Linked DNA regions of Homo sapiens. The protein of the gene in region 3 purifies or fractionates together with the protein of the main gene of each other region. This does not show direct contact. Each region holds a gene or a part of one and is shown on either strand. Other genes may lie near its edges.

Region 1 (3,500 bases), on a different chromosome or scaffold from region 3:
TGTGCCTTTTTCAAAAGGTGGGGAGCAGGATAGAGTCAATGTTTAGGGCAGTTTCTTAGAATATATTTCTGAGAGAAAAATTATTAGGTCTCAGTCAGCATTAGGCTTCCATGATTTTTACCAAATCTATGACTTAAGTATTAAAAGAGTTTTAGCTTCTCATAAGTTGTGTTTTGAAGCAATAGATTGAATTTGGTAAATTCTGAAGGAGTTCTACCTGACTTACATTTCATTCTAATGGAGGTGCTTTGCGTATACTTCGTAAAAATTTCTCTGTGAGTTGGCTCTTCTAATGCCAAAGTAATAGGAAGATCTTTTGCTATACAGTGTCTTGTTTCTGTAGTCTGTGTTCCAGGTAAAAATATTCATCTTTATTCTTGTCAGTAATGAAACTCATTTTTAAAAATGAGTCGCCTAGGCACGGTGGCTCACGCCTGTAATCCCAGCACTTTGGGAGGCCGAGGTTGGCAGATCACCTGAGGTCGGGAGTTCCAGATCAGCCTGACCAACATGGAGAAACCCCGTCTCTACTAAAAATACAAAATTAGCTGGGCGTGGTGGTACATACCTGTGATCCCAGTTACTCAGGAGGCTGAGGCAGCAGAATCACTTGAACCTGGGAGGTGTAAGTTGCGGTCAGCCAAGATCGCGCCATTGCACTCCAGCTTGGGCAACAAGAGTGAAACTCCATCTCAAAAAAAAAAAAAAAATTAGTCATTGAAGGTTTTTTCCTCTTCAGTATTTGATTCAAAAGTATTAAATAGTTAAGAAACTGGCTTATACATATTGGTTTGTAAACATTCATAGATCTCCCATCTATTTTTATATGTGGCTAGGTATCCAAAATGTTGAAAGATTATGACTGGATTAATGCAGAGAGACACCTCTTTGGCCAACCCAATAGTGCCTATGATTTCAAAACTAACAACCCTAAAGAAGCTGGTCAGAGACTTCAGAAGTTGCAAGAAATGAAGGAGAAACTAGGAAGAAATGTCAATATGAGAGCTATGAATGTATTGACAGAAGCTGAAGAGCGAGTAAGTCAATTTCTTATGAATATCTGGCCGCATTAGAACATGACTAGCATTGACAGCTCTGTATGACCTCTGATGCAATTATTAGAGTTAACCTTTTGCAGATGTCCTTGATACTTTTCTTTCTGCTTTCCTTTTTCTCTTTTCGTCATTTTTTTCTTATTACTCTTATGCATCATTAGTTGTTTTTACATTCTATTACACCTGGAATGACTTTTTCACTGGCTTTTGTTCTTTGTCAAACATAATTCCTCACATTTCTATCATTTCATTTCTTTCACTTGCATTGAAAAGCCTTGAATAGGATATACTTCTGTCATCCTCTTGACTCTACTGTATACTGAAACTATATAAGTAATGACTAAAGCCATTATACACATAAATACTGTTTCACTGATCTGTAAATTCTGCAGCCTCTTCTCAGTTTTAATGCTCTCAATTACTCAATAATGTTATTCTTCCCTAACCTGACAAAACTTTGAGTCTGGGAAGGGAGTTTACTGTCATCTAGTGATGAACTTGGGAGGACCTATCACTAGAAAAACCCAGTGGGGGAAGCATTCCCTACTCTTAAGATAGCCATAAGAAATGGCTATCTTAGTAATTTTATATTAATGCCCCTATTAATGCCCCATACCTTCCTGAATGCTGGAAAATTCTGTTTGAATTTGCAAATCAGAGTAAAATTCATGAGAAATCTGCGACACTGATAATAGCACAGTTACTTTGAAGAAATTTTACCATAATTTTTTTTAACTGTTTTTGGCATGAATATGCACAAAGAGTCTATATTATATTAGATACCAAACAGATGAATCATGCAGGTATTGTGATCTCTCTAGAAAATGCTCCTGCTGGTTTTCATTTCTACATTAAAGCTTTGCAATATGTGATATATTTGTAGAAGGAAAACTTTGGTCTGAATTTGATCTGCATAACATGAAACTTGTTCACTTTTACTCGTTTACTTCTATTAGATGAGACCTGAGTCTAATATTTTTTTCAAAAGAATTTATCAACTCCCATCTCTTTACCAGAGGAGAAGCCTATATTGTTGATCAGCAGATGGCCTTTTTTTTTCTTGTGTTTTGTATCTATCTACATAAGCAATTACATGGATTTTCATGAAAAAATAAGATAAAAATGTAGAGAGAAGGTTAGGGGAGCGTGGCTGTAAAGAAGAGGGACAGCAAGGAAAACAGCAGGACTGACTAGAATTGTTAAAGGTGAATGTGAAGCCTCCTTGAAATGTAGGGCTTTGAGGAGAAATGAATTAGGAAGAGTTTTAGGAAGTCCCATTGCTGTTCATGGTATGATTATCCCTCTACAGCCTTGCTTGAAGGAAGACTACTCTAAAGTGGTGATATTTGAGCTGAAATTTCAGGCAACCGTTATGTCAGAGAAAGAGCATTCCAGGAAGGGAGAATAGTGCAGGGGCCATAAGACAATAGTGAGTTTATTATGTTCAAAGGAGCTGTAAAAGACCATATGGCCAGAACCTGGGGAGGAGTTTAATGCCATAAAGTCAAGGGATAAATAAGGTCCAATTCCCTTTATCCTGATGCATACAGGGCTTAAAACCTGGTTGATTGGTGCAGCAAGCCATCATGGCACATGTATACCTATGTAACAAACCTGCACATTCTGCACATGTATCCCAAAACTTAAAATTAAAAAAAAGTAAGGTCCAATTTATGTGGTTCCTATATATCATGGTGAAGGATCAAAATTTTGTTCATGTCACTGCTAAGGCTGACCTTAAGAGGAGAGCTTTCAGGGCTCCTTTTACTTAAGTTTATATGTAACACTTTTTTTTTTTTTTTTTGCCTTGGCTGCTAAGGAGATAAGGGAATATTAGTGGAGTCAAAATATTTTAAGGACTTTGTCTTATAAATTCTTAGTTCTAGTAATTTAGTTATATACATATGGATGATTTTATTCCTAATTTTGTTAAGAGTGTGTATATGAGTGTGTATATACACACACATCATACAGTATATGTATAGTATATGAGTATATATAATTCTTAGTGCATTATATCTTTTTGGTAAATAGCAATGTATGTATTGTATATAAAAATAATGAAAACTGTTTATTTCTGACCAAATTCCAGAATATAGAAGAGATTTTATATTTTCCCAGTTAACCATGTTTTTTATCTCATAGTACAATGACTTGATGAAGAAGAAGAGAATTGTAGAAAATGACAAATCCAAAATTCTTACAACTATAGAAGACCTTGACCAGAAGAAAAACCAAGCCCTAAATATTGCATGGCAAAAGGTACTTTTTATGTTTGTTTTATATGAGGTTGCAAGGATGAAAAAATATCATCAGTGGAGTTATACTCTATAAGAAATTTGAAATAGCTGATCTATGTTTGAATGAGGCACATATTCACACCTTAATTAAAACCTCTGACTTTTAAATGCATTTTTTTCTTTTTGAACTTGACTACTACCAGAT
Region 2 (3,500 bases), on a different chromosome or scaffold from region 3:
AAAACTAATAGCTTAAATATCGCAGTAATAGTAAAGGTAAAATATACACGGTAGTCAGTATTGACAGAATTTGGAAAAATGGGCACTCTTACTCATTACCGATAGCACTGTACTGAAGAACAATATCAAAAGTCTTAAAATATAGCCTGGCCAACATGTTGAAATTTTGTCTCTACTAAAAATACAAAACTAGCCAGGCGTGGTGGCAAGTGCCTGTAATCCCAGCTACTTGGGAGGCTGAGGCAGGAGAATCGCTTGAACCCAGGAGGTGGAGGTTGCAGTGAGCCAAGATTGCGCCATTGCACTCCACCCTGGGTGACAGAGTGAGACTCCGTCTCAAAAAAAAAAATCTTAAAATAAATGTTCATCCCTTCTAGCCCAGTAATTTTATATCTGATGATTTGTCCGAATAAAACATTCATGAAAAGACATCCTCTGTAAAGATTCTCATTAATGCAAGTTACATCTACAATTTGGAAATGACCAAAATGTATGAGGATTGTTAAATAAATCACCACATAATACAATGAAAGTCATTAAAAATCATGCAGAAGAATGTTTAATGACATGAGAAAAAGTCATGAAATGACATTAATTGAAAGAGGCGGATTACAACATTTATCTACAGAATACCAAGAAAAAGATTTAAATATATTTATCAAAATGTCAACCATAGTTGTCTCTGGAGAACGAGATTATGAGTGAATTATTTTTTCTTTTCTTTTTTTTTGAGACAAGTTCTCACTCTGTCACCCAGCTAGAGTGCAGTGGTATGATCATAGCTCACTGCAGCCTTGAACTCCCAGGCTCAAGTGATCCTCCTGCCTCAGCTTCCTGAGTAGCTGGGACTACAGGCGTGCACCACCATGCCTGGCTAATTTGTTTTTTTTTTTTTTTCTGGAGACAGAATCTTGCCATCATGCCCAGGCTGGTCTCAAACTCTTGGGCTCAAATGATCCTCCAGCCTCGGCCACCCAAAGTGTTTGGATTACAGGCATGAGCTACCATGCCTGGCCTACTAAAGTATTCTTGAACATATGCTTTGTAGAAAATTTAGAAAATATGATTAAACAAGAAATAAAGGCTAGGTGCAGCAGTGGCTCATGCCTATAATCCCAGTACTTTGAGAGGCCAAGGTGGGAGGATAGCTTGAGCCCAGGAGGTCAAGACCAACCCGGGCAACATGGCAAAATCCCGTCTCTACAAAAAAATACAAAAATTAGCTGGGCATGGTGGCGCATGCCTGTAGTCCCAGCTACTCAGGAGGCTCAGGCATGTGGATCATTTGAACCTGGGATGTCGAGACTGTAGTGAGCTGTGATCACACCACTGTACTCCAGTCTGAATGACAGAGTGAGACCCTGTCTCAAAAAAAAAAAAAAAAAAGAGAGAGAAAGCTTTAGTAATAATGAATAAATTAAAATATAGACTCTAGGTTCTTGTCATTATTCTGGTTTACTTACAGGACATAATGGAGGAATAGTAGATGGACATATATCACTCTTCTTCCGTACTGTAAGTAACTACTCATCGTGAATTTACCCCAGTCTCATCAATTTCATCAGTAAGGAACTACCAAAGGTCCCCCCACAAAGTAAAATGTGCCATTTGCTATCACTAGTCTCCATATAGTCTTAAGACTCATACTGAATTAATAAAATGCTAAATCCAATATTATTCAAATCCCAAAAAAATTGTTACTATGTTTTCTTTCCTTTACCTTTCTTATTTCTGCTGTAGAAAATCCAGATATCTTGAGCTGCTCATATTCTTTATGCAAAGTTTTAAAGGCTTCCATTAACTCTTCATACTAGAAGAATAAGTTAAGAAATTATAAACTAATAACTAGATCCAGTAGAGTTTTCTTTCTTTCTTTCTTTCTTTTTTTTTTTTTTTTGAGACAGACTCTTGCTCTGTCGCCCAGCCTGGAGTGCAGTGGCACGATCTCGGCTCACTACAACTTCCGCCTCCCAGATTCAAGCGATTCTCCTGCGTCAGCCTCCTGAGTACCTGGGATTACATGCGCGCGCCACCACGCCCGGCTAATTTTTGTATTTTTAGTAGAGACGGGGTTTCACCATGTTCAGGCTGGTCTCGAACTCCTGACCTCATGATCCATCCGCTTTGGCCTCCCAAAGTGCTGGGATTACAGGCGTGAGCCACCGCGCCTAGCCATAGAGTTTTCTTAATCAGGTTATCTATTAACTTACAGCGATTACTTAAGTCATTGTAAGAACAGCATTAAAAACACAAAAACACATCCTTATACATTTATATAGGGTACAAAAAAGTACATCTCTACCATCTTAACACTAAATACTTCTCTATCTTCATTTCTGGTTACTTTCCTGCTTCACACTCTACACTAGCTATGTTGATGTCTGAGTTCCTGAACATTCCATGCTCTCACGTCCAGCTTATACATCTATGACTCCCTCACCCATAACTTAAGCAACTCCTTTTCATCCTTCAAGTCTTCACATAGATTCTACTATTCTCAGAGAAGCCTTCTCTGGCCCTTTATCTATCCTATCAGAGTAGATATCATGTACAATTATAACTGACTATTATAATTTTCTGTCTGTCTCCCTCCATCATATAGTGAGAGCCAAGAGGAAAAGAATCATATTCATTGTGTACACCCTTGTATCCCTAGGGCCTAGCACAGTGCATAACCCATGGAGGTGTTTAATATAAAGTAGTTGAATGGGCCAGGTGAGGTGGCTCACACCTGTAATCCTAGCACTTTGGGATGCTGAGGCAGATGGATCACTTGAGGTCAGGAGTTCGAGACCAGCCTGGCCAACATGGTGAAACCCTGTCTCTACTAAAAATACAAAAAATTAGCTGGGCACAGTGGCGCACACCTATAATCCCAGCTACTCAGGAGCTTGAGGCAGGAGAATTGCTTGAACCTGGGAAGTGGAGGTTGCAGTGAGCCGAGATCACACCACTGCACTCCAGCCTGGGTGACAAAGCGAGACTCTGTCTCAAACAAAAAAAAAGTAATTGAATGAATGAAAAAAATCCTGTTACCTAAAAATTTTTTAAAATAGTTTTTTTTTGTTGTTTTTGAGACAGGGTTTCACTCTGTCACCCTGGCTGGAGTGCAGTGGTGCGATCACAGCTCATTGCAGCCTCGACCTCCCTGGGCTTAGGTGATCCTCCCACCTCAGCTTCCCAAGTAATTGGGACTACAAGCTTACGTCACCATGCTGGGCTAATTTTTTTATCTTTTGTAGAGATGGGTTTCACCATGTTGCCCAGGCTGGTCTCGAACTCCTGAGCTCAAGCAATCTGCCCACCTTGGCCTCCCAAAGTGCTAGGATTAAAGGCATGAGACACTGTGCCTGGCCAAAAAGTTATTTTGATGGGGAATGACAGAATAATATTTTTCTTGATTGATCATATCTTAAATCTACAAATTATTAATTATAAGACCCTTCATTCCAAAAGATAATATGTATTTTTATTAGGATTCCTGAAATGACTGGCTAAAT
Region 3 (3,500 bases):
GGCAGGTACTGCAATAGCAGGTGCTTGGGATGCTGTCAGCATCTGCTACACACTCCAGTGTCTCCTCCAGTCCTCCATGACCTACAACCCCCAGCTTACAGATGAGAAAACTGAGGCTCATAGGGGCTAATGGCCAGCATCATAAGCTTAGTGAGGACTGAGAGTTGTGTCTGTTTTGTTCACTCTTTATCCCCAACCCCTATAGCAGCACCTGGCACAGAGTAAGCCCTTGATAAATATTCAGTGAAGGAAAGTCATTCAGGGAGTGTGACTTAGTTGAGTCAAGACTTGAACTGGGATATTCTACCCCAAAGCACATGTCCTTCCGCCGCATGGCAAGAACATACCAGTGTCTGCAGACAGCGCAGTGTGTGGCTTGGAGTAGGTGCCTAAAACAGTTGTTTAATTAATTAATTAATTCTTCTATTCTCTACCTTTATGTTCCTTCTTTCCCTCCCTTACTTAGAAATCAGAGAAAGAGAGAGAGAGAAATCAGAGAAAGGCAGGCCCCCATGGGCAGCGGTGGTAGGAACGCCCCCACAGGCGCACACCAGCCTACAGCCCCACCACCACCCATGGGAGCCTTCTGTGAGAGAGAGCCTCTGTTCCACATGGCCCTGGAAAAATGAGGATTTTAACCAAAAATTCACACAGCTGCTACTTCTACAAAGACCTCACCCCAGAAGCCAAGATCCCCTGGTCAAGAGAAGCTGGCCTGATTATGTGGAGGAGAATCGAGGACATTTAATTGAGATCAGAGACTTATTTGGCCCAGGCCTGGATACCCAAGAACCTCGCATAGTCATACTGCAGGGGGCTGCTGGAATTGGGAAGTCAACACTGGCCAGGCAGGTGAAGGAAGCCTGGGGGAGAGGCCAGCTGTATGGGGACCGCTTCCAGCATGTCTTCTACTTCAGCTGCAGAGAGCTGGCCCAGTCCAAGGTGGTGAGTCTCGCTGAGCTCATCGGAAAAGATGGGACAGCCACTCCGGCTCCCATTAGACAGATCCTGTCTAGGCCAGAGCGGCTGCTCTTCATCCTCGATGGTGTAGATGAGCCAGGATGGGTCTTGCAGGAGCCGAGTTCTGAGCTCTGTCTGCACTGGAGCCAGCCACAGCCGGCGGATGCACTGCTGGGCAGTTTGCTGGGGAAAACTATACTTCCCGAGGCATCCTTCCTGATCACGGCTCGGACCACAGCTCTGCAGAACCTCATTCCTTCTTTGGAGCAGGCACGTTGGGTAGAGGTCCTGGGGTTCTCTGAGTCCAGCAGGAAGGAATATTTCTACAGATATTTCACAGATGAAAGGCAAGCAATTAGAGCCTTTAGGTTGGTCAAATCAAACAAAGAGCTCTGGGCCCTGTGTCTTGTGCCCTGGGTGTCCTGGCTGGCCTGCACTTGCCTGATGCAGCAGATGAAGCGGAAGGAAAAACTCACACTGACTTCCAAGACCACCACAACCCTCTGTCTACATTACCTTGCCCAGGCTCTCCAAGCTCAGCCATTGGGACCCCAGCTCAGAGACCTCTGCTCTCTGGCTGCTGAGGGCATCTGGCAAAAAAAGACCCTTTTCAGTCCAGATGACCTCAGGAAGCATGGGTTAGATGGGGCCATCATCTCCACCTTCTTGAAGATGGGTATTCTTCAAGAGCACCCCATCCCTCTGAGCTACAGCTTCATTCACCTCTGTTTCCAAGAGTTCTTTGCAGCAATGTCCTATGTCTTGGAGGATGAGAAGGGGAGAGGTAAACATTCTAATTGCATCATAGATTTGGAAAAGACGCTAGAAGCATATGGAATACATGGCCTGTTTGGGGCATCAACCACACGTTTCCTATTGGGCCTGTTAAGTGATGAGGGGGAGAGAGAGATGGAGAACATCTTTCACTGCCGGCTGTCTCAGGGGAGGAACCTGATGCAGTGGGTCCCGTCCCTGCAGCTGCTGCTGCAGCCACACTCTCTGGAGTCCCTCCACTGCTTGTACGAGACTCGGAACAAAACGTTCCTGACACAAGTGATGGCCCATTTCGAAGAAATGGGCATGTGTGTAGAAACAGACATGGAGCTCTTAGTGTGCACTTTCTGCATTAAATTCAGCCGCCACGTGAAGAAGCTTCAGCTGATTGAGGGCAGGCAGCACAGATCAACATGGAGCCCCACCATGGTAGTCCTGTGAGTACCCAAACCACCCATGTCTGCAGCTCCTCTGTCAGTCCATAAGCCCGAGTGACCTGAGCACCAGAGGCATGCTCACTGAGCCTGGCCGGGGGTGGGGGTGGCTAAAGGATCAGGGTCTCCAGTGACTTCTAACTGCCCAATCTGACCACCATGCTCTGTCTACCTAAGCTCCTCTGCAGTGCCCGGCTGTGGGGCAGGCCCTGCTTGCTTCTGGAGAGGCCACTGGGCCCTGCCGTGTCTGCCACCTCTCCTCCTACCCTTAGAATGACCGTCCATCTTCTCTCCTGGACGTGCTCCCACCTTCCTGCTGACCTTAGCTACCCCCACACTCCCCAAGGATCAGGCAGCCCCCCTACCCCTGCTCCTCTCTCTGGGCATTCATTCTCTCGGAGAAATTGCTCCTCCAGCTGCTTCAGGAACCCTTTCCATGACAACGACATTGGCCCTGAGATCTTCCCCATCAGCTCTCAAAAAGAGTTTCCTATTTTTCCCTGCAAAACTGACTTCATAATTATTTGTGACCGTGGTGCCACCATTGCCCCACGCACTCAACCTGAAACCCACTCTCTGGCTGTGCAAGAATAGCTTCCTCCAACCATTCTCCAGCCCGGCAGTACTGAGAACTTCCCCATCCCGGTTCCCCGACCTCTGTCGTGGTATCGATCACATGCTATTGGTATGTGTCTATGTCCTGCTTTAGATGATTCATTCCATAAGTATTTATTAAGCACTGATTCTATGCCAGGCCCTACAGATCACAGATTAAAAAGCACAATACGTGCCTTAAGGAGCTCAAAAAATAGGGGAGAAGACAAACATTCATTTAATGACAACAGAGTGTGATGTCTACAACAGTAGAGGTATGGACAAGGTACTGTGGTGGCCCAAGGAAGGGAGTGATCACACGAGTGGGTAATAAAGATTCTCAGAGGAAGAAATGTTTGATGTGGGCCTTCATATTTATATTTTTAAAACTTTTTCTCACAATAAAATTCATGTTCATTATAGGAAAAAAAAAAAGATATGTAGGCTGGGTGAAGTAGCTCACACCTGTAATTCCAGTACTTTGGGAGGCTGAAGCAGGAGGATCACTTGAGGCCAGGAGTTCGAGACCAGCCTGGCCAACATGGCAAAACCCCATCTCTACCAAAAAATACAAAAATTATCTGGGCATGGTGGCACACGCCTGTAATCCCAGCTATTAGGGAGACTGAGGCATGAGAATCACTTGAATCTGGGAGACGGAGTTTGCAATGAGCTGAGATCGTGATACTGAACTCCAACCTGGGCAACAGAGCCAGACTCCGTCTCAAAAAACAAACA

What was found.
Region 1: the proteins of NLRP1 (region 3) and SMC2 fractionate together in Homo sapiens (co-fractionation; one large-scale study listed by BioGRID). This does not show direct contact.
Region 2: the proteins of NLRP1 (region 3) and IFT81 purify together in Homo sapiens (affinity purification with mass spectrometry, with the first as the bait; one study listed by BioGRID). This does not show direct contact.

What each region holds. Positions count from the first base shown.
Region 1 is NC_000009.12:104,128,809-104,132,308, forward strand, and holds part of SMC2 (structural maintenance of chromosomes protein 2), read left to right. Parts: intron 1-836; coding exon 837-1,037; intron 1,038-3,200; coding exon 3,201-3,317; intron 3,318-3,500. UniProt on the Homo sapiens protein: Central component of the condensin complex, a complex required for conversion of interphase chromatin into mitotic-like condense chromosomes.
Region 2 is NC_000012.12:110,130,857-110,134,356, reverse strand, and holds part of IFT81 (intraflagellar transport protein 81 homolog), read right to left. Parts: intron 1,811-3,500; coding exon 1,721-1,810; intron 1-1,720. UniProt on the Homo sapiens protein: Component of the intraflagellar transport (IFT) complex B: together with IFT74, forms a tubulin-binding module that specifically mediates transport of tubulin within the cilium. Binds tubulin via its CH (calponin-homology)-like region.
Region 3 is NC_000017.11:5,557,010-5,560,509, reverse strand, and holds part of NLRP1 (NACHT, LRR and PYD domains-containing protein 1), read left to right. Parts: intron 1-466; coding exon 467-2,171; intron 2,172-3,500.